3 separate regions of the Homo sapiens genome follow, and regions 1 and 2 are each linked to region 3. Evidence: fine-mapped expression QTL. A gene starts in region 3. Each other region holds a variant in brackets. All regions are shown on one strand. Distances are between the middles of the regions.

What was found. PIP is the estimated chance that this variant, and not a neighbour inherited with it, causes the effect. A credible set is the group of variants that fine-mapping cannot tell apart.
Region 1: its variant is the best candidate, but not a certain one, in a credible set for the expression of CATSPERG in prostate (GTEx, PIP 0.67).
Region 2: its variant is the best candidate, but not a certain one, in a credible set for the expression of CATSPERG in whole blood (TOPMed, PIP 0.72).

Annotation. Positions count from the first base shown.
Region 1 is chr19:38,423,357-38,429,747 of GRCh38, forward strand. RASGRP4 (RAS guanyl releasing protein 4) reads right to left here and starts at 2,863. Exons shown (of 17, transcript NM_170604.3): 1 at 2,713-2,863. The coding sequence starts at 2,735. RefSeq lists silencers at 2,739-2,798, 6,320-6,391 and an enhancer at 3,691-4,205. The variant A/T (reference allele first, on the strand shown) is at 3,873.
Region 2 is chr19:38,269,959-38,276,349 of GRCh38, forward strand. The region is part of intron 1 of SPINT2 (serine peptidase inhibitor, Kunitz type 2); the gene reads left to right. Among named protein-coding and RNA genes, the nearest start is that of SPINT2, 8.6 kb to the left of the region's middle. The variant T/C (reference allele first, on the strand shown) is at 2,737.
Region 3 is chr19:38,333,229-38,339,619 of GRCh38, forward strand. CATSPERG (catsper channel auxiliary subunit gamma) reads left to right here and starts at 2,602. Exons shown (of 29, transcript NM_021185.5): 1 at 2,602-2,647; 2 at 3,993-4,276; 3 at 4,365-4,418. The coding sequence starts at 4,007. RefSeq lists enhancers at 2,341-2,635, 2,440-2,649 and silencers at 2,770-2,849, 3,220-3,389.

The sequences.
Region 1 (6,391 bases), 90 kb after region 3:
CGCTACTAAAAATGCAAAAATTGGTCAGGCGTGATGGCGGGCGCCTGTAATCCCAGCTACTCAGGAGGCTGAGGCAGGAGGGTCGCTTGAACCCAGGAGGTGGAGGCTGCAGTGAGCCGGAACTGCATCACTGTGCTCCAACCTGGGTGACAGAGTGATTTCTGTTTCAAAAATAATAATAAAAAAATTAAAAAGAGAGGCCAGTCACAGTGGCTCACGCCTGTAGTCCCAGCACTTTGGGAGGCTGAGGTGGGTGGATCACTTGAGGTCAGGAGTTCGAGACCAGCCTGGCCAACATGGTGAAACCCCATCTCTATTAAAAATACAAAAATTAGCCAGGCGTGGTGGTGGGCTCCTGTAATCCCAGCTACTCAGGAGGCTGAGGCAGAAGACTTGCTTGAACCCAGGAGGCGGAGGTTGCAGTGAGCCGAGATCGTGCCACTGCACTCCAGCCTGGGCAACAGAGCGAGTCTTAGTCTCAAAATAATAATAATAATAATAGTAATAATAGTAATAATAATTCTCCCTCTGCCTGGTGCCTCCCAGAGGCTGCTGTTCCTGATAGGGGAAGAGGGTAATGGAGAGACAAGGATGGTGGGAGCAGGGAGGCTGCTGAATCCAAGCTTCAGACGAAAGTAGAATCCAGAAATTTTTGCCAGCTGTTGTGACTTCGTGTTAGTCACTTAATTTCTCTGGGGCTCAATTTCCTCGAAGGAAAAATGAGGATAGTCCTTGGACCTTCTCCAGGGATTTCTTTTTTCTTTCTTTCTTTCTTTTTTTGGAGACAGGGTCTCACTCTGTCACCCAGGCTGGAGTGCAGTGGTGCGATCTCAGCTCACTGCAACCTCCACCTCCCGGGTTCAAGCAATTCTCCTGCCTCAGCCTCCCAAGTAGTTGGGACTACAGGCACGTGCCACCACGCCGAGCTAATTTTTGTATTTTTAGTAGAAATGGGGTTTCACCATGTTGGCCAGGCTGGTTTCAAACTCCTGGGCCCAACTGATCCTCCCACCTTTGCCTCTGAAAGTGCTGGGATTACAGGTGTGAGCCATCACGCCAGGCTCCCACCTCTACCCTTTTTCAGACAGGGTCTTGCTCTGTCTCCCAGGCTGGAGCACAGTTGTGCAATCAAAGCTCATTGTAACCTTGAACTCCTGGACTCGAGTGATCCTCCTGCCTTAGTCTCCCAGGTAGCTGGGACTACAGGTGTGCACGACCATACCCAGCTAATTTTGTGTGTGTGTTTGGGTGTGTGTCAATGGGGGGGGGGGTCTCACTATATTTCTCAGGCTGGTCTAGAACTCCTGGCTTCAAGTTCTCCTTGTCTTATCCTCCCAAAGTGCTGGGATTAGAGGCATGAGCCATCGTTACTAGAAGGGACATTTTAAAGTATTATATATGTCCTAGGCTAAGGAAGGAGCATTCTAACTAAGTCAGCATTTCCCTAAGTGTGGGCACCCAGCTAGTACCAAAAGCATCACCTGGGAACTGGATATCAATACAGATTCTCAGGTCCCAACCCAGACCTACAAAATCAAACACTTTAAGGCTAAGGGTGGTGGCTCATGCCTCTAATCCCAGCACTTTGGGAGGCCGAGGTGGGTGGATCACGAGGTCAAGAGATCGAGACCATCCTGCCCAACATGGTGAAACCCCATCTCTACTAAAAATACAAAAAAGTAGCTGGGTGTGGTGGTGCACACCTGTAGTCCCAGCTACTTGGGAGGCTGAGGCAGGATGATCGCTTGAACCCGGGAGGCAGAGGTTGCAGTGAGCCAAGATTGTGCCACTGCACTCCAGCCTGGCGGCAGAGCGAGACTCCGTCTCAAAAAAAAAAAACAAAAAAAAAAAAACCAAACACTTTAAAGGTAAGCCCAGCAACCTGTATTTTACAAGCCCTCCAGACAGTTCTGAGGCTCGCTCCAGTTTGAGAACCACTGGTCTAGAGTGTCTCATTGAGTACTTACAGGCCTCTCCGAGGTAGAGGATATGATTGTTCTACTGACAGAAGAAAAACCCGAGACACAGAGCAGTTAAGTGACTTACCTAAGGTCACACAGCTAGGAAATTAGGCAGCCAGGAGTCTACCACTAAACTGCTGGGTGGGGAGGAAAGCCCTTTGCCCATCAGAGTGGTGCTGGGGGTGGCAGGAGGAGTTACCCAGGCTAGGGAGCCACCCACCATCTGCCTCTGTGGGGACAGAAGGGCCAGCTTGCCCAGGAGATGAAGCCCATTCCAGAACCGGCCGCACAGCCAGCCACTAGGCCCTGTCCTGCAGCCCCCTGTAGGGGTCTGGAACAGCCAGGAGTGGTTTAAGAGGCAGGGGAGTCGCCTTGCCCTGTGCCACACTCCCCTCTCCTGGGCCAGGCCCTGCAGGAGCCTGGAGTTTCCAGTCCACGGGGATGGGGAACCAGGAAGCCCCCAGGGAGGGCAGAGACACTCAGCCCAGGCCAGGGATGGAGGTGGGGTGATGAGGAGTGGAAAAGGGGCACGGAGCAGCTCAAACTCCAGGGACAACACGGTACAGATGCCACATACAAGCGACTGCAGCCGTAGCTGGCTCCAGACTCCCTGAAGCATCCACCTGGCCCCCCTGCGCCTGATCCCAAAGAAGTCAGGAATCCTGCCACCCTGGCGAGTGATCTCCCCAGCCCTCCCATGCAGAGGGAGGCCTCAGGGTGCTGCCGGGCTCCCTGGGGAGGGTCCTCTCACCTCTTACTGTCTTTTCTGTTCATGCTTCCCGCGTGGGGTGAGGAGGCCGGGGGTCTTGCAAGAGTAGGGCTCAGCTCCTCCCCTTGCCCAGGACTCCAGCTTCTCAGCCCCTAGGGAGCTGGGGCCTCCTCGGTGCTTGGGAAGGAAAGAGGAACTGCCCCTCCCCACCCACCCTCAGGCCAGGGGGAAGGAAGAGGCTGGGGAGAGACCGAAGGCCCCCCTCCCCCACACGGGGATCCCTTCTGCTGAGGTTTCCGGCATCGCTGGCTCTCCCACCCTCAAGCTCCCCGGCGGGCTCTCTATCTCCCCCATCTTTCGGTGTCGAGACCCGTCACTGTCATACTTCAATAAAAGAAGGGGCTTTTCTTTTTAAAGCATGACTGATATTTATGTAAAAACACACACACTCACTCAAAAAGATAAGTCTGTCTGTCTAGAAGGACATATTCATATATATAATTCATGAAGGTTTGAATGGAAACTCACAAGACATAGTATTTTGTATATTTCTTCATAGGCGTCTCTTATTCCTAGTTTAAGTGATACCATTTGTACCCTGGAAAACATTTTCACTTTCTGACTTTATTGTAACAAACCTCCACATAGCACCTACTGTGTACCACACACTGCTGTAAGGACTTTAAAAATATTAACTCATTTAATCCTCACACAATCCACTGTTACCTTAAAAAAAATTACATACCGGACCAGGCACGGGGGCTCACAGGGGCTCACGCCTGTCATCCAGCACTTTGGGAGGCCAAGGCAGGCGGATCGCTTGAGTCTAAGAGTTTGAGACCAGCTTGAACAACGTGACAAAACCCCGTCTCTACAAAAAATGTAAAACGTTAGGCCGGTGTGGTGGCTCACTCCTGCAATCCCAGCACTTTGGGAGGCCGAGGTGGGCGGATCACCTGAGGTTGGGAGTTTAAGACCAGCCTGAGCAACATGGAGAAACCCCGTCTCTACTAAAAATACAAAATTAGCCAGGCGTTGTGGCACATGCCTGTAATCCCAGCTACTCGGCAGGCTGAGGCAGGAGAATTGCTTGAACCCAGGAGGCGGAGGTTGCCGTGAGCCGAGATCGCGCCATTGCACTCCAGCCTGGGCAACAGGAGCGAAACTCTGTCTCAAAAAAAAAAAGTTAGCTGAGCGTAGTG[A/T]TGCACACTTGTAGTCCCAGCTACTCAGGAGGCTGAGGCTAGAAGATTGCTTGAGCCCAAGGAGGTCGAGGCTGCAGTGAACCATGATGGTGCCACTGCACTTCAGTCTGCGTGGCAGAGCCAGACCCTGTCTCAAAAAACAAAAAACAAAAAAAAAAAACACACACACACATCAAAAAACATTAGAGATGGAGGTAAAGCCTTGGGGAAGCCCCTCCCCATCCCCTGCCTTTCTTAAGCAGGGTGTGACCAATATGACACGTTGTCGAGTTTCGTCCAAACTGCTGTCTGTGCGTTTAAGCACATCATATAAACATGTGCTCCTAGAAACAGACTTTTCTTTTGAGTGTGCATTTTTTTCTTTTTACCTAAATGTGTCATGCTCGACACTTTTTTTTAAATTGAAGTACAAAAAAGATCACGAATCATTAAGTATTTAGGTTGATGAAATGTCACCAACTGAGCAAACCTGTGTGACATTCATACAAATCCAGACACAGAACATTCTCACCCTCCACAAGCCCCCTGTCTTTCTTCCCAGCACGAATTCCCACAGATCCCCACTCGCCCGAAGTCTGGCGCAGTAGTTTTGTCTTGTTTTGAGCTGGATAAAAATGGACTCCTGTATTGAATCTGGGTTCTTTCTCTCCACGTCTTGTCTTTGCAGTTCTTCCATGTTATCATATTTGGTTATAATTTATTCCTTTTTTTGGCCGGGCGCGGTGGCTCACGCCTGTAATCCCAGCACTTTGGGAGGCTGAGATGGGCAGATCACTTGAGGTCAGGAGTTCGAGACCCGTCTGGCCAACATGGTGAAACTCCCATCTCTACTACAAATACAAAAATGAGCCAGGTGTGGTGGTGCGTGCCTGTAATCCCAGCTACTTGGGAGGCTGAGGCAGGAGAATCGCTTGAACCCGGGAGGAGGAGGTTGTAGCGAGCCGAGATTGCACCACTGCACTTCAGCTTGGGCGACAGAGCGAGACTCTGTCTCAAAATAATAATAATAATAATAATAATAATAATTCCATATAGTCTTTCATTATGTGACAATTCCATGACTTATATATATATATTTATTTATTTAGAGATAGGTGTTGTGGATAGTGACTAAGCGGGCTGGTGGCATGCTAACTTCTATTTTTTTTTTTTATTTTTGAGACAGAGTCCTGCTCTGTCGCCCAGTCTGGAGTGCAGTGGCGTGATCTCAGCTCACTGCAACCTCTGCGATTGAAGCGATTCTCCTGCCTCAGCCTCCCCAGTATCTGGGATCACAGGTGTGTGCCACCACACCCAGCTAATTTTTGTAGAGACGGGGTTTTGCCATATTGGCCAGGCTGGTCTTGAACTCCTGGTCTCAAATAATCCACCCGCCTCAGCCTCCCAAAGTGCTGGGGTTACAGGCGTGAGTCACAGCACTAAGTTCTATTTTTCATCAGTCTAGAGTCTGGTAATAACTAGACACTAAAACATTTTAAGTTAAGTGAGTTATCTATACAAGAGGACTATATGTCCTAGACTGTAAAAAAAAGACAAACTTATAGCTTCTCTGTTTTTTTTTTTTATTTTTATTTGGTCCTACCAACCTGACTCTTTTTTCTTAATTAAGACTCCACAGCAGGGTCTCCCTCTGTCACCAAGGTTGGAGTGCAGTGGCGAGATCCTAGCTCACTGCGGCCTCGGACTCCTGGGCTTAAGCCATCTTCCCACCTCAGCCTCCTGAGTGGCTAGGACTACAAGTGCACACCACTGTGCTCTGCTAATTTTTTTTTTATTATTTTCCTGTAGAAACAGGGTCTTACTTTGTTGCCTAGGCTGATCTCGAACTCCTAGGCTCAAGCAATCGTCCTTCCTATGCCTCCAAATTGCTGACTCTCCAGGCGTGAACCACTGTCCCCGGCCTCCGTGATTTATTGATCAATTTTCCTGTGATGGACATCTGAGTTGTTTCCAGGTTGGGGCTGCTGTGACTATTTGAGCATCTGACTTTTGATGAACATAGAGTGTACCATATTGTAGGGCAGTACCCAGGAGTGGAATAAATGGGTCATAGTAGTTACTGTGATTCTACCAAACATAGCATGTTAGCAATTCATTGAAATCGTTCTCTCAGAAGTATATTTTTCCACTTTTTTTTTCACTAAAAGAAAGAACCGTGGATGTATATTTTTTCCAATGCAGAACATTTAGACAGTCACTGAACTCGCCGTCTTTAGTTTTTCCATCACGCGATGTTACCATAGCTTCAGACTCTCTCTTCCTGCCCGTTTTCACCCTCTCTCCCCCTGGCCTCATGGTGTTCTGTCTGACTCTCTCAGACCATCTCCTGTAGCACCTGCATCTTGAATGTGACTTAACAATCCTGGCTGAGCAGAGACTTCGTAGTGTGGCAGTGTCTCCAGGCCCTGGGGACCCAGAAAAGCCTCAAGGAGGAGGTCAGAAATCCTGGCACTTGTTTCTACTGTACACAGGCAGCCTTAGTCCTCGGGCTGGCCAAGAATACCCACAATACCCGTGCT
Region 2 (6,391 bases), 63 kb before region 3:
CAGGTGATCTGCCCACCTCAGCCTCTCAAAGTGCTGGGATTACAGGCTCGAGCCACGTGGCCCAGCCCTCTCCTGCACTTCCAAGGGATTTTCGAAATGCATGGACCTCTCAGGTTAATTATAGTGTCTGTAGAACCTTAACTGCTGTAAGCTTTCCAGCAGACTCCACAGACGTGTTATTAGTTGCCACCCTTTCTTTACTTTCCTCCTCACCCCCATGGATAGTCGTGACCCTGGTGGTCAGAGATAAGATGACAGAAGAGCTAAAGTAAAGCTGGTGTTGGCGATCAGCTGGGAATTCTCTAAAACAGCTTCTCACATTATTCTTATCCTCCATAGAAGGAGTGCTTGTCCTACTTGCAGGCAAGGCAGTTTGGTTCCAGGGTAGTTCGAAATCTTATTCACTGATATAGTCAGCAAATGTTTATTGAGCACCCACCAATTGCCAGGCACTGACTCACTCAAATTAGAGCACTGAACAAAATAGACCCCCTCCCCCATCCGTGGCAGACGTGTCATAATGAGAGGAAGACAGTACAATAAATGAACAGATGAATGTATGTCTGGTGATGAGTGTCAGGGTTGGTGTGCTTAGCACTGAAAATGGGGGCTTCTGAGGTTCAAATGGTTGCAGTTCCTAAAGAAGGTTGAGGGCCTTGCCTTCAGGTCACCGCGGGAGACTGGCCCCTTTCCACTGGAAACATTGCTTTGCCCAGTCAGTATTTGAGAGCTCAGCCTGCAATGGAGAAATCACACTTCTCCTCTTTCACCCTGCTCCCCACCCTGTTTCTCATTTTACCCATCCCCAGCCATTTGCAGAATGCATGCAGAGCTTCTGTTTGCCATGTCTGGAGGCTACAGGGGAGGCTGAATAAGGGGTGATAAGCCTGTGGCTCATGTGAGGCGGGAGAGAGCCCAGCAGGAGTCACACTGAAATGACTCCATTAGCCCCAGGAGGCCTTGGCCCACCGGCCATGACTAATGTGGACATTAGAGTGTGGATTCCGATGTCCTGCAAGATCCTCCTCACAAGTGTCATTTCATGGTTTTTTTCTGGCAACATCTTTTTGAAAACTCCCTGTAAAGAAGTGCTGATGTTGATGCTGAGGCCCAGGAACTTTGGAGTTTATTTACCTTTTTTTGTTGTTTTATTTTCCTTGGCAGGTGAAGTAGGAGCTAGAGTTTACTTATTTTGAAGTTTATTTGAAATATGCTTTTTATGATTAGAAGCCATTTTAGAAATGAGGGCGAGGCCGGGCGCGGTGGCTCATGCCTGTAACCCCAGCACTTTGGGAGGCCGAGGCAGGCGGGTCACGAGATCAGGAGATCGAGACCATCCTGGCTAACACGGTGAAAACCCGTTTCTACTAAAAATACAAAAAAATTAGCCTCGCGTGGTGGCGGGCGCCTATAGTCCCAGCTATCTGGGAGGCTAAGGCAGGAGAATGGCGTGAACCCAGGAAGTGGAGCTTGCAGTGAGCTGAGATCATGCCACTGCACTCCAGCCTGGGCAACAGAGCAAGACTCTCTCAAAAAAAAAAAAAATGTTATGCTAAGTGAGAGGAGCCACTTACAAGAGACCACCACATGTTTGGCCGGGTACAGTGGCTCATGCCTGTAATCCCAGCACTTTGGGAGGCCGAGGTGGGTGGATCACGAGATCAGGAGTTCAAGACCAGCCTGGCCAAGATGTTGAAACCCCATCTCTACTAAAAATACAAAAAAAAATTAGCCGGGTGCAGTGGCAGGCGCCTGGAGGCTGAGGCAGGAGAATCGCTTGAACTCGGAGGGTGGAGGTTGCAGTGAGCCGAGATCACGCCACTGCAGTCCAGCCTGGGAGACAGAGTGAGACTCCATCTCAGAAAAAAAAGAGGGCAAGAATTCACATGTTGTTTTACTCACACGTGTTGGAGATGGAGCTCAGGGTGATTCCTGACTGGGCCCAGGGTCCATGGCCTCAGAAGTCCCTTAATCTGAAGTCCTTCACTTTTATGTGATACTGCTGGGCACAATGGCTCACGCTTGTAATCCCAGCACTTTGGGGGGCTGAGGCAGGTGGATTGCTTGACTGAGGAGTTTCAACATGGTGAAACAAAAAATACAAAAAACTAGTCAGCCTGTAGTCCCAGCTATGTGGGAGGCTGAGGTGGGAGAATTGCTTGAGCCCAGGAAGTGGAGGTTGCAGTGAGCCGAGATCGCACCATTGCACTCCAGCCTGGGCGACAGAGCGAGACCCCATCTCAAAACAATTTTATATGTGATAGTTTGTCCATGTGTATGCCAGGGTCTGTCATTTAGAGTGTATGGCATGTTCTTAAAGGGGTGGGGGAACAAAAAGATACTATAATAGTTTGTGACCTTTTGAAGGGCCGCTCTACATGAATAGATATATAGTATGTCTGTGGTGTTAAAATTTTGTGGGGCGATTAGGAAAAACATTTCCAAAAAGTCTTAGGGGGAAGGTAGTAATGAAAAAAGGTTGAGAAACACCATTCCAGAGAGAGGGTCCAAGAGCTTTCCTCAGTTCTGAAAATGGTCCATGATTTGCACAAGGTAAAGAATGGCTGAATGCGAATTAACAGCAGACAGTTTCTTAGAAGATTTGAAACTATTGTTTCCTTCCCAGCTATTCAGATGGACTGCTCGGGTTCTTGTTATGGATTGAGGCGAGGGTAGACTTAATAGTCTTGTTTCAGAGTGGAATATGGAGTGATGGTAGGCATGAGTAGTGATGAG[T/C]TGCATTGTGCTGATAGGTTATGAAATGTAAATTTTTTATTTTTTGATATGGAGTCTCTGTCGCCCAGACTCTGGAGTGCAGTGGTGCGATCTCGGCTCACTGCAACCTCCACCTTCTGGGTTCAAGCGATTCTCCTGCCTCAGCCTCCTGAGTAACTGGGATTACAAGCATGCACCACCACGCCCGGCTCATTTTTTTGTATTTTTAGTAGAGACGGGGTTTCACCATGTTGGCCAGGCTGGTGTTGAACTCCTGACCTCAGGTGATCCACCTGCCTCAGCCTCCCAGAGTGCTGGGGTTACAGGCGTGAGCCACCGTGCCCGGCCTGAAATGTAAACTTTTATATCTAAATATTTTATATAGAAAATACCAAGATTTTATATCTGAAACACCAAGATTTTATGAGCCTCATAACTTAAGTAGGATTTGTAATTGTAAATGTTCTTTCCTCATAAATACCTGAGGTTTTTTTTTGAAAGGTTCTGAATTGTCTCAATAATGAAAACTTCCAGACACCCAAGCCTAGAGGAGATGGGTAGTTGGTAGCTTTCTGTACTGGAAACAGAAACACTCAAATATATAGAACCTAGCCAGCTAACCAAAGTAGGTAGATTTATAGATCATCTTAAAATAAGGCTGATTACACAGTAAATGTCACCTTTGGAATCTGGCTTGGTAGAATTGAAATAGGCTTCAGTACCTCCTGTCATTCAGTACCTGTTTTCTTGAACTCCTGACTTCAGGTGATCTGCCTCGGCCTCCCAGAGTGCTGGGCTTACAGGCATGAGCCACTGTGCCCGGCCTCAGTACCTCTTTTTAAGATGCTCTCATTCATTCCCTGGTGAAAAGATGCTTGAAGTGCAAGTGCAAGTAGGTGTGGAAAGCATGGAGGGTTTGTGTTGCTTCATTTGTTTTGGTATTTGTTTTTTCCACCAGTCCCTCCCTCTGGCTTTCTGCCTCCCAGCCCAGCATATCCTGATCTTGTAGCCATGCAGGACTTTGACCCGTGTGGTGGTTTGCCATTGTCTTCCTCCAGGTGAAGATAAGACATCATTGGTTTGGCTTGAGGTTGTACTTTTGGCCTTCCCTGTATATCCTCTTCCTCCTTATCCTCTCCGTCAGCATGCTTGGTTGGACTCTGTAGTGAAATGTGTCATTCTCTTTATTCTGACTGTCCCTATATTAGTCCTGTCTTCATAAAAAATACAATCGTAAAGATACAATATCTACTATTTGTTAAAAGTTTTGTGCTAGGCCAGGTGCGGTGGCTCACGCCTGTAATCCCAGCACTTCAGGAGGCCGAGGCGGGTGGATCATTTGAGCCCAGGACTTCAATACTAGTCTGGGCAACATGGTGAAACCTCGTTTCTACAAAAAATGCAAAAATTAACCGGGTATGGTGGCACACGCCTATAGTCCCAGCTACTTGGAGGCTGAGGTGGGTGGGTCACTGAGCACAGGTCAAGGCTACTGTGAGCCAAGATTGTACCACTGTACTCCAGCCTGGGTGACAGGGCAAGTCCCTGTCTCAAAAAAAAAAAGAAAGCTGTGTGCTAAATACTATTTTAAGCAATTATAATGGATTAAAAACTCCTTTAATCTTCACAACAATGTTTTTTCTTTCTTTTTTTTTGAGATGGAGTTCTTTGAAACTCTTGGATTAAATGACTCTTCAGAGCTTTCTTTGCTTTTTGATACTAAGGAGTGGCATGTCTGGGGATTTTTATAGCAAATAACTTCTCCTTGGCTACTATCCTTAGAATTCCAAGTGTTTTTAATGAAAAGAGGAGACTTGTTTTTAGTGATGTTAGTTGTTTTTAGGAAAGGTGTTCTGCAGTGTTTTTCGCTAAGGTGGCTCACGCCTGTAATCCCAGCACTTTGGGAGGCCGAGGTAGGCAGATCACTTGAGGTTAGGAGTTTGAGGCCAGCCTGGCCAGCACAGCAAAACCCTATCTACTGAAAATACACAAAGTAGCCAGGTGTGGTAGTACACTCCTGGAGTCCTAGCTACTCAGGAGGCTGAGGCAGGAGATGACTTGAACCCGGGAGGCAGAGGTTGCAGTGAGCCTAGATCGCACTATTGCATTCCAGCCTGGACGACAGAGTGAGACTGTCTTAAAAAAAAAAAAAAACATAAAATGGAGAGGTAGACCAGCTTACGGGAGGTGTTGCACTTCCCTCTGCCACTGGAGAGACTCTGGATCTGCAGCCAGGGAGCTTGTGAAGGCTTCTTGTCCACGGAAATGAGGGCGGCAGTTGTGACTTTCTGGATGGTGGCCCAGAGGAAGCAACACTGGCAGAGCCTCTTCTGTGAAGCAGCTCTGCGAGCAATTTTGTGACATTGAAAGAGCAAAGGATAAAACGTTGAAAGCTGATCCAGATCTAGAAAAGTGTTTGGCAATTGCTGGAAAAGGTGTAGAAATGATGCTTGCTCTGTATCGTAAGTTATATGGTGAGAAGACCACAAGCACGGTTCAAACTCCCCTTAGAAATTCTTTTGCACAGAAATTAACACTTTAATCCTAAATGTTTCCAATGTTTTAACTTACAGTATGCTAAATAAACATTCTTTCTGTTTGTTTGTTTTGTTTTGTTTTGTTACTCTGTGCATTTATAGCCAATAGAGTTTTTCTTTCCTTATTTTTTTGACACAGGGTCTTGCTCTGTCGCCCAGGCTAGAGTGCAGTGGTGCGATCTCAGCTCACTGCAACCTCCGCCTCCTGAGTTCAAGTGATTGTCCCGCCTCAGCCTCCCGAGTAGCTGGGACTACAGGCGCGCGCCACTGTGCCGGGCTAAGTTTTATATTTTTAGTAGAGATGGGGTTTCGCCATGATAGCCAGGGTGGTCTTGAAATCCTGACCACAGGTGTGAGCCACTGTATCTGGCCAAAAAAATTTTTTTATTTTTTGTAGAGACAGGGTCTCACTATGTTGCCCAGGCTGGTCTTGAACTCGTGACCTCAAATGATCCTCCTGCCTCGGCCTCCCAAAGTGCTGGGATTATAGGTATGAGCCACCATGCCCAGCTTGACAAAAAAATTTTTTTTTTTTTTTGAGAGATGAAGTTTCACTCTTGTTGCCCAGGCTGGAGTGCAATGGATCAGCTCACTGCAACCTGTGCCTCCTGGGTTCAAACGATTCTCCTGCCTCAGCCTCCAGAATAGCTGGGATTACAGGCATGCACCACCACGCCCGGCTAATTTTGTATTTTTAGTACAGACGGGGTTTCTCCATATTGGTCAGGCTGGTCTCGAACTCCTGACCTCAAGTGATCCACCTGCCTCGGCCTCCCAAAGTGCTGGGATTACAGGTGTGAGCCACCACGCCCAGCTGACAAAAATTTTTAAATGTCATTGAGCAGTATCATTTTTCCCACTGATTATGAGATTGCTTTGTGTGATCACACACTGACGGGCAGGCCAATTGCTGCTTGTATTCAGTATTTGGCCCCTTATAGAAAACATTTGCAGACCCTTGTTCTAGAAAAAACAGATGGGTGGGAGGAGGAGGAGGAGAAGCATTTCAGGAGTGGCTTTGGGCTTTCCTGTCCTGCACGTGGTGAGGCAAGAAGCTCTTGTGCCTCAGCTCATAGCACTCATGGGAGTCTGTCAATAACTAGAACCCTAGGAGTTATTTTTGCTTGTTTTAAAAATAA
Region 3 (6,391 bases):
GCTGTGATGGCACCACTGCACTCCAGCCTGGGCGACAGAGTGAGACTTTGTCTCAACAAAAAAAAAAAAAAAAAAAGGGAAAAAAAGAAGATGAAAAAGAAACCCCCATCTCTAAAAAAAAAAAAGTAAAAATAAAACAAATTAACTGGATATGATGACTCGCATCTGCAGTTCCAGCTACTTGGGAGGCTGACATGGGAAGATCACTTGAGCCTGGGAGTTCGAGGCTGCAGCGAGCAATGATTGCGCCACTCCACTCCAGCCTGGGTGAGAGAGTGAGACCCCGTTTCTAAAAAAACAAAATAAAAAAAAAAGGGCTCTGGTACATGGCTACTGAGTTTCTTCCCCTAGAAGATGTCACCGTTCCCTAGCCTGCGGGGGTGGGCTGGGGTGGGAAGGATAGACCACCATCATCGGTTCATTTACATAAAACAACTATTATATGCGGTGCCTGGCAGGGCTGGGGGACAACAGAGGCAGAGAAAGCCATACACCCTGCCCTCACGGAGCTTGTGATCCAGTGGAAAAGAAACACCCATTTCCAGTCATGAGTGGCCTAGAGGGGCCAAGAGGTAGGATGAGGGCTGGTCATGTATCACAGAGAAGACCTAAAGGAAGGAAAGTGGTGGGCCCTGTTAAAAAGCATGGAATGGTATTCCAGAGGGCATTACTGAGTCTGCACAGGTCTGGAGCATGCATGGCTCACACCTGACCAAGGATATTCAAGTCGCTCCATGTGACCAGACTGTGGACCACAGAGGTCTAAGGGGGAGAGGGCAGATGAGCCAGATAGAATGACAGGGAGGAGAGTATGAGGGGCTCTGGAAACCGAGGGGTTTGGAAGTTTTCCTGAGGGCCTAGAGGGTCATGGAAGGTTCTAGAGCACTGGTTCTCAAGGTGTGGTCTCCAGACCACTAGTATCAGCATCACCTAGGAACTTGCCAGAAATACAAATTATCAGGCCCCACTCCAGATCTACTGAATGAAAAATTCTGGAAGTAGCCAGGTAGTTACTCAGGAGGCTGAGATGGGAGGCTCACATGAGGCCTGAAATTCAAGGCTAACCTGAGATAGGGTGTTGCTCTTTTGCCCAGGCTGAAATGCAGTGGTGTGATCACAGCTCACTGCATTTCCGTGTATTTCAGAGCTCACTGCAGCCTCAAACTCCTGGGCTCAAGTGGTCTTCCTGCCTCAACCTCCCAGGTAGCTGGGGTCACAGGGATGGACCACCACACTGGGCTAATTTAAAAAAATTGTTAGCAACAGGGTCTTACCATATTGCCCAGGCTGGCCTCAAGCGATCCTCCTACCTCAGCCTCCCAAAGTACTGGGATTACAGGTGTGCAGCACCACATCTGGCTTAATTTTTTTTTTTTTTTTTGAGACAGGGTCTCATTCTGTCGCCCAGGCTGGAGTGCAGTGGAGGGATCTCGGCTCACTGCAACCTCCGCCTCCTGGGTTCAAGCAACTCCTGCCTCAGCCTCCCGAGTAGCTGGGATTACAGGTGCCCGCCGCCATGCCCGGCTAATTGTTGTATTTTTTGGTAGAGACAAGGTTTTATCATGTTGGCCAGGCTGGTATCCAACTTCAGACCTCAAGTGATCCGCCTGCCTCAGCTTTCCAAAGTGCTGGGATTATAGGCATGAGCCACTATGCCCAGCCAGAGACTCCATCTTTAAAACAAAAACAAAAACTCAGGGTGTGGTACCCACCAACCTGGCTTACCCAGCCTTTTAGGTGAGTCTAATGCATGCTCAAATTTGAAAACCACTGGGTTAAACGTCTGGTCTGGAGTTCATCAAAAAGTCATGGCCTGAATCCTTACCTGTAAGGCATCAGAATGCAAATGAAAATTAACTTAATGAATATTTTACTTGAGCCGGGCACACTTCCCACAACAGTATAGGATGGCTGTCCTTGTCCTGTTTTGTAGAGGACGGTGCTAAGCAGCCTATTCATTCTCACAAGGTCTCCAGGAAACCACACTTTTTTAAGGAGTAGAATTTTGGGGTAGGGCCGGGCGCAGTGGCTCACGCCTGTAATCCCAGCACTTTGGGAGGCCGAGGCGGGTGGTTCGCCTGAGGTCAGGAGTCGAGACCAGCCTGGCCAACATGATGAAACCCCGTTTCTACTAAAAATACAAAAAATAAATTAGCCAGGCGTGGTGGCGGGAGCCTATAATCCCAGCTACTCGGGAGGCTGAGGCAGGAGAATCGCTTGAATCCGGGGCAGGGGCGCGGAGGTTTCAGTGAGCCGAAATCGCGCCACTTCACACTCCAGCCTGGGAGAAAGAGCGAAACTCCGTCTCAAAAAAATATATATATATATATATTTGGGTAGGAAGCACAAGTAGGGACCGTGCTTGCTGCCAGAACAACCAATAGAAACTCCTTGAAGGCCTTCCTGGCACAAACGTAGTCTCCAGCACCCTCTGCCGACCAGGCCCCGCGCCCTCAGTGCTGAGACAGCCTCCAGCCCTCGGTGCCTTAGGGGTTGCGCGTCACCTTGGAGACCGCGTGAGAGGAGGGCGTGCCTCTGCAAAGGCGGAAGTCGGCTGTGGAAGTGTGGGCGGCCATTTTGAGACCGGGCAAGAGGGGCGGGACTGGTGCGGCCGAGTGACAGTTGACCGGTTTTAACCAAGTGACTGGTACCACGGGGCCGGGGAAAAAGCTGTGCCATCCAGGGGCGGGGGGATGCCGGGGACGGGGAGGAACTAGGAAGGGGAGGGGAAGGGGAAGGCGAGAAGGGGAGAGGCAGGGGAAAGAGGGGAAGAGTCGTGGGAGCTGGGAGAGGAGGGAAAGAGGGGAAGAGTCGTGGGAGCTGGCAGAGGAGGGAAAGGGGGAGCCGAACGTGAAGGGCGAAGGGCGGGGCGGGGCAGGAGAGTCGGGGTATAGAGCAGGCAGGTGTTAATGGCATGGGAAGGAAGAGTAAGAAGTGGGGCAAGAAGGTGTCGCGGTACGAGGGGAAGGTGAGACTCAAGAAGGTGCCGGCTAAGAAGCTGGTGCCGGCGTGGAAGGAGAAGGTGTGGGGCGAGGAAACAACGAAGGGCGAGGAAAGATCCCGAGGCGAAGAGACAGTTTTCATCGAGAAGGGGCAGGGCGAGGAGGAGGGGCGTTACCAGAGGGCGGGACGGGGCGACGGGCCCGCGCGGGAAGAACCAATCGCCGAGAACCCGGGGAAGGAACGGGTCCATAAAGACCAAGTGGAGGAGTAGGGGCGCGGTCAGGAGCGGAAGCAGAGTGAGGAGCAAGCCCCGGGCGAGAAACGGGGGCCCGGCCGGGAGCAAGAGCAGGGGCGGGGCCGGGAGCAAGAGCAGGGGCGGGGCCCGGAGACGGGCGAGACCAGGTACAGTACCCAGCCCCTGGGCAGACCCCGAGCGAGGAGAAAGCGGCGATACCAAGAGAAGTGCGAGGGTGGGGCAAGAGGTTGGGGCACAGCCGGGTGGAAGTACACGGGTGCGATCGCAGGCAGAAGCAGTACGGGGGAACTTAAGAGGGGGACTGTCAAAGCGAGAAATAGAAACCAAGACCAGGTGAAGAGCAAGAGTGGAATACAGGGAGGGGGCGGAATAAGGAGCAAGGTGAGGATAAAGTTAAAGGAAGAGACGTGGAGGCGGCGGGGCGGAACGAGGCGGAGGAGCAGGGGTGTGGCCAGAAACATTAGTAGGGCTGGGGCCCGGAGCAATAGCAGAGGTGCGATACCCACGAGGGTCGGGGGCAGGGCCAGGAGCAAGAGCAGGGGCGGGACCAGGAGCAAGTGCAGAGGCGGAGCCAGGAACAAGAGCAGAGGCGGGGCTAAAAGTCCGTGCGGGGGCAGGGCCAGGAGCAAGAGCAGGGGCGGGACCAAGAGCAAGTGCAGGGGCGGGGCCAGGAGCAAGAGCCGGGGCGTGGCCAGGAGCAAGTGCTGTGAGAGGCGCAGAAGCGAGGTGGAATCTTAAAAGTGGGCTCCAGAGAGCTGTCCGGCGCGTGGGTGTTGACTCCTGCGTTCTCCAGGTTCTAGCCACGTTATGTGCGGCCCAGCCATGTTCCCTGCCGGTCCTCCGTGGCCCAGAGTCCGAGTCGTGCAGGTGCTGTGGGCCCTGCTGGCAGTGCTCCTGGCGTCGTGGAGGCTGTGGGCGATCAAGGATTTCCAGGAATGCACCTGGCAGGTTGTCCTGAACGAGTTTAAGAGGGTAGGCGAGAGTGGTGTGAGCGACAGCTTCTTTGAGCAAGAGCCCGTGGACACAGTGAGCAGCTTGTTTCACATGCTGGTGGACTCACCCATCGACCCGAGCGAGGTGAGGGGACCAGGGTCAAGTGAACCAGAGGGATTTTGAACCCGCACTCCACTCATTTCTGGACGTGTGGCCTAACCTCTCTTTGCAGAAATACCTGGGCTTCCCTTACTACCTGAAGATCAACTACTCCTGCGAGGAAAAGGTGAGTGGGTGCAGCACGGATAGGCTCATTCTATGAGCCTTGGTTTTCCCACCTCTAACATTTTTATTTATTTATTTATTTTATTTTTTTGAGACGGAGTCTTGCGCTGTTGCCCAGACTGGAGTGCAGTGGCGCGATCTCGGCTCACTGCAACCTCCGCCTCCCGTGTTCAAGCGATGCTCCTGCCTCGGCCTCCCAAGTAGCTGGAACTACAGGCATGTGACACCACGCCCGGCTAATTTTTGTATTTGGTAGAGACAGGGTTTCACCACGTTGCCCAGGCTGGTCTCAAACTCCTGACCTCATGTGATCCACCTGCCTCAGACTCCCAAAGTGCTGGGATTACAGGTGTGAGCCACCGTGCCTGGCCCCCATCTCAATATGTGGTAGCACCATCCAACCCTGGTGGCTTTAAGGATTCAAGAAGGCTGTCTGTGTACAGTTCCCAGTAACCCACCAAGCACCTAGTAGGTGCTCAAGTAAGCTTTTTTGTTCCATGTTTTTTTTGTTTTGTTTTGTTTTTGAGACGGAGTCTCGCTCCGCCCAGGCTGGATTGCAGTGGCGCGATCTCGGCTCACTGCAAGCTCCGCCTCCTGGGTTCACACCATTCTCCTGCCTCAGCCTCCCAAGTAGCTGGGACTACAGGCGCCTGCCACCACGCCCGGCTAATTTTTTGTATTTTTAGTAGAGATGGGGTTTCACCGGGTTAGCCAGGATGGTCTCGATCTCCTGACCTCGTGATCCGCCCGCCTCGGCCTCCTAGAGTGCTGGGATTACAGGCGTGAGCCACCTCACCCGGCCTTGTTCCAGGTTTTTAAAGCTATGAGTAGGAGTTTACCATATATATAATTCACACACCATAAAATTCACCATTGTTATTTTTGTTATTTTTCTGAGGCAGGGTCTCACTCTGTTACCCAGGCTGGAGTGCAATGGTGAAATCACAGCTCATTGCAGCCTTGACCTCCTGGGCTCAAGTGAACCTTCTGCATCAGCCTCTTGAATAGCTGGGACTAGTTGTGCGCCACCACACCAGCACGGGAGGATCACTTGCATCCAGAAGCTCAAGACTAGCCTAGGTGAATTTGGCTGGGCATGGTGGCTCCCACCTGTAGAAATGCTAAGGCAGGATCATCATAATGAGCCTAGGAGGTTGAGGCTGCAGGGAACTGTGATCATGCCACTACACTCCAGCCTGGGTGACAGAGTGAGACCCTGTCTTTGTTTTTATTAATTAATTAATTAATTTTTGAGATGGAGTCTCACTCTGTTGTTGGGGTGATCAGACCCAACACCAGGTCGGGGGGAGGGGGTGGCGACGAAGTCCGGCGGAGTCAAAGGATTGAGAAAAAGGCAGTTTGAGAGAGAGAAGTAAAGTGGGACCAGAGGGCCATTGCTAGTGTATGGAGGCTGCTAAAGCCCCGAGCTCTGGGAGCCCACGCTATTTATTGGTAATCCAACAAAGAAACAGGTGGTGAGAATGTGGAGGTCAAAAGGGCACATTGCATTAAGCACATGATTTACAGCTGTGATGGTTTAGCATTTGCTCTGCTGCTTGAGATAATGGAGAGCAGGTTCTTTTAACTCAAGATACAATCAATCCTGGGAGCGCAAGGAGCAAGCAAGTCTAGACACATTCCAGAGCCATGAGCCCTGGATTCTATCGAGGCCATGAGGGATTTTATGCCCTTGGCTTAGATTATGGTGCATGATGGTAGGCTTCCACCCTTTAGCACAGAGCTTGGTGTTCCAAAGGCCACAAGGGGTTTTAGACCCTGGACCCCGGACATGTTCCAAGACTCTTTTACATTATGTCAGACATGCAAGCCCTGCCTCAGCTTCTCCTAACACTCTGTCGCCCAGGCTGGAGTGCAGTGGCGCAATCTCGGCACACTGCAGTCTCTGCCTCCTGGGTTCTAAGCGATTCTCCTGCCTCAGCCTCCTGAGTAGCAGGAATTAAAGTTTTTAATTTT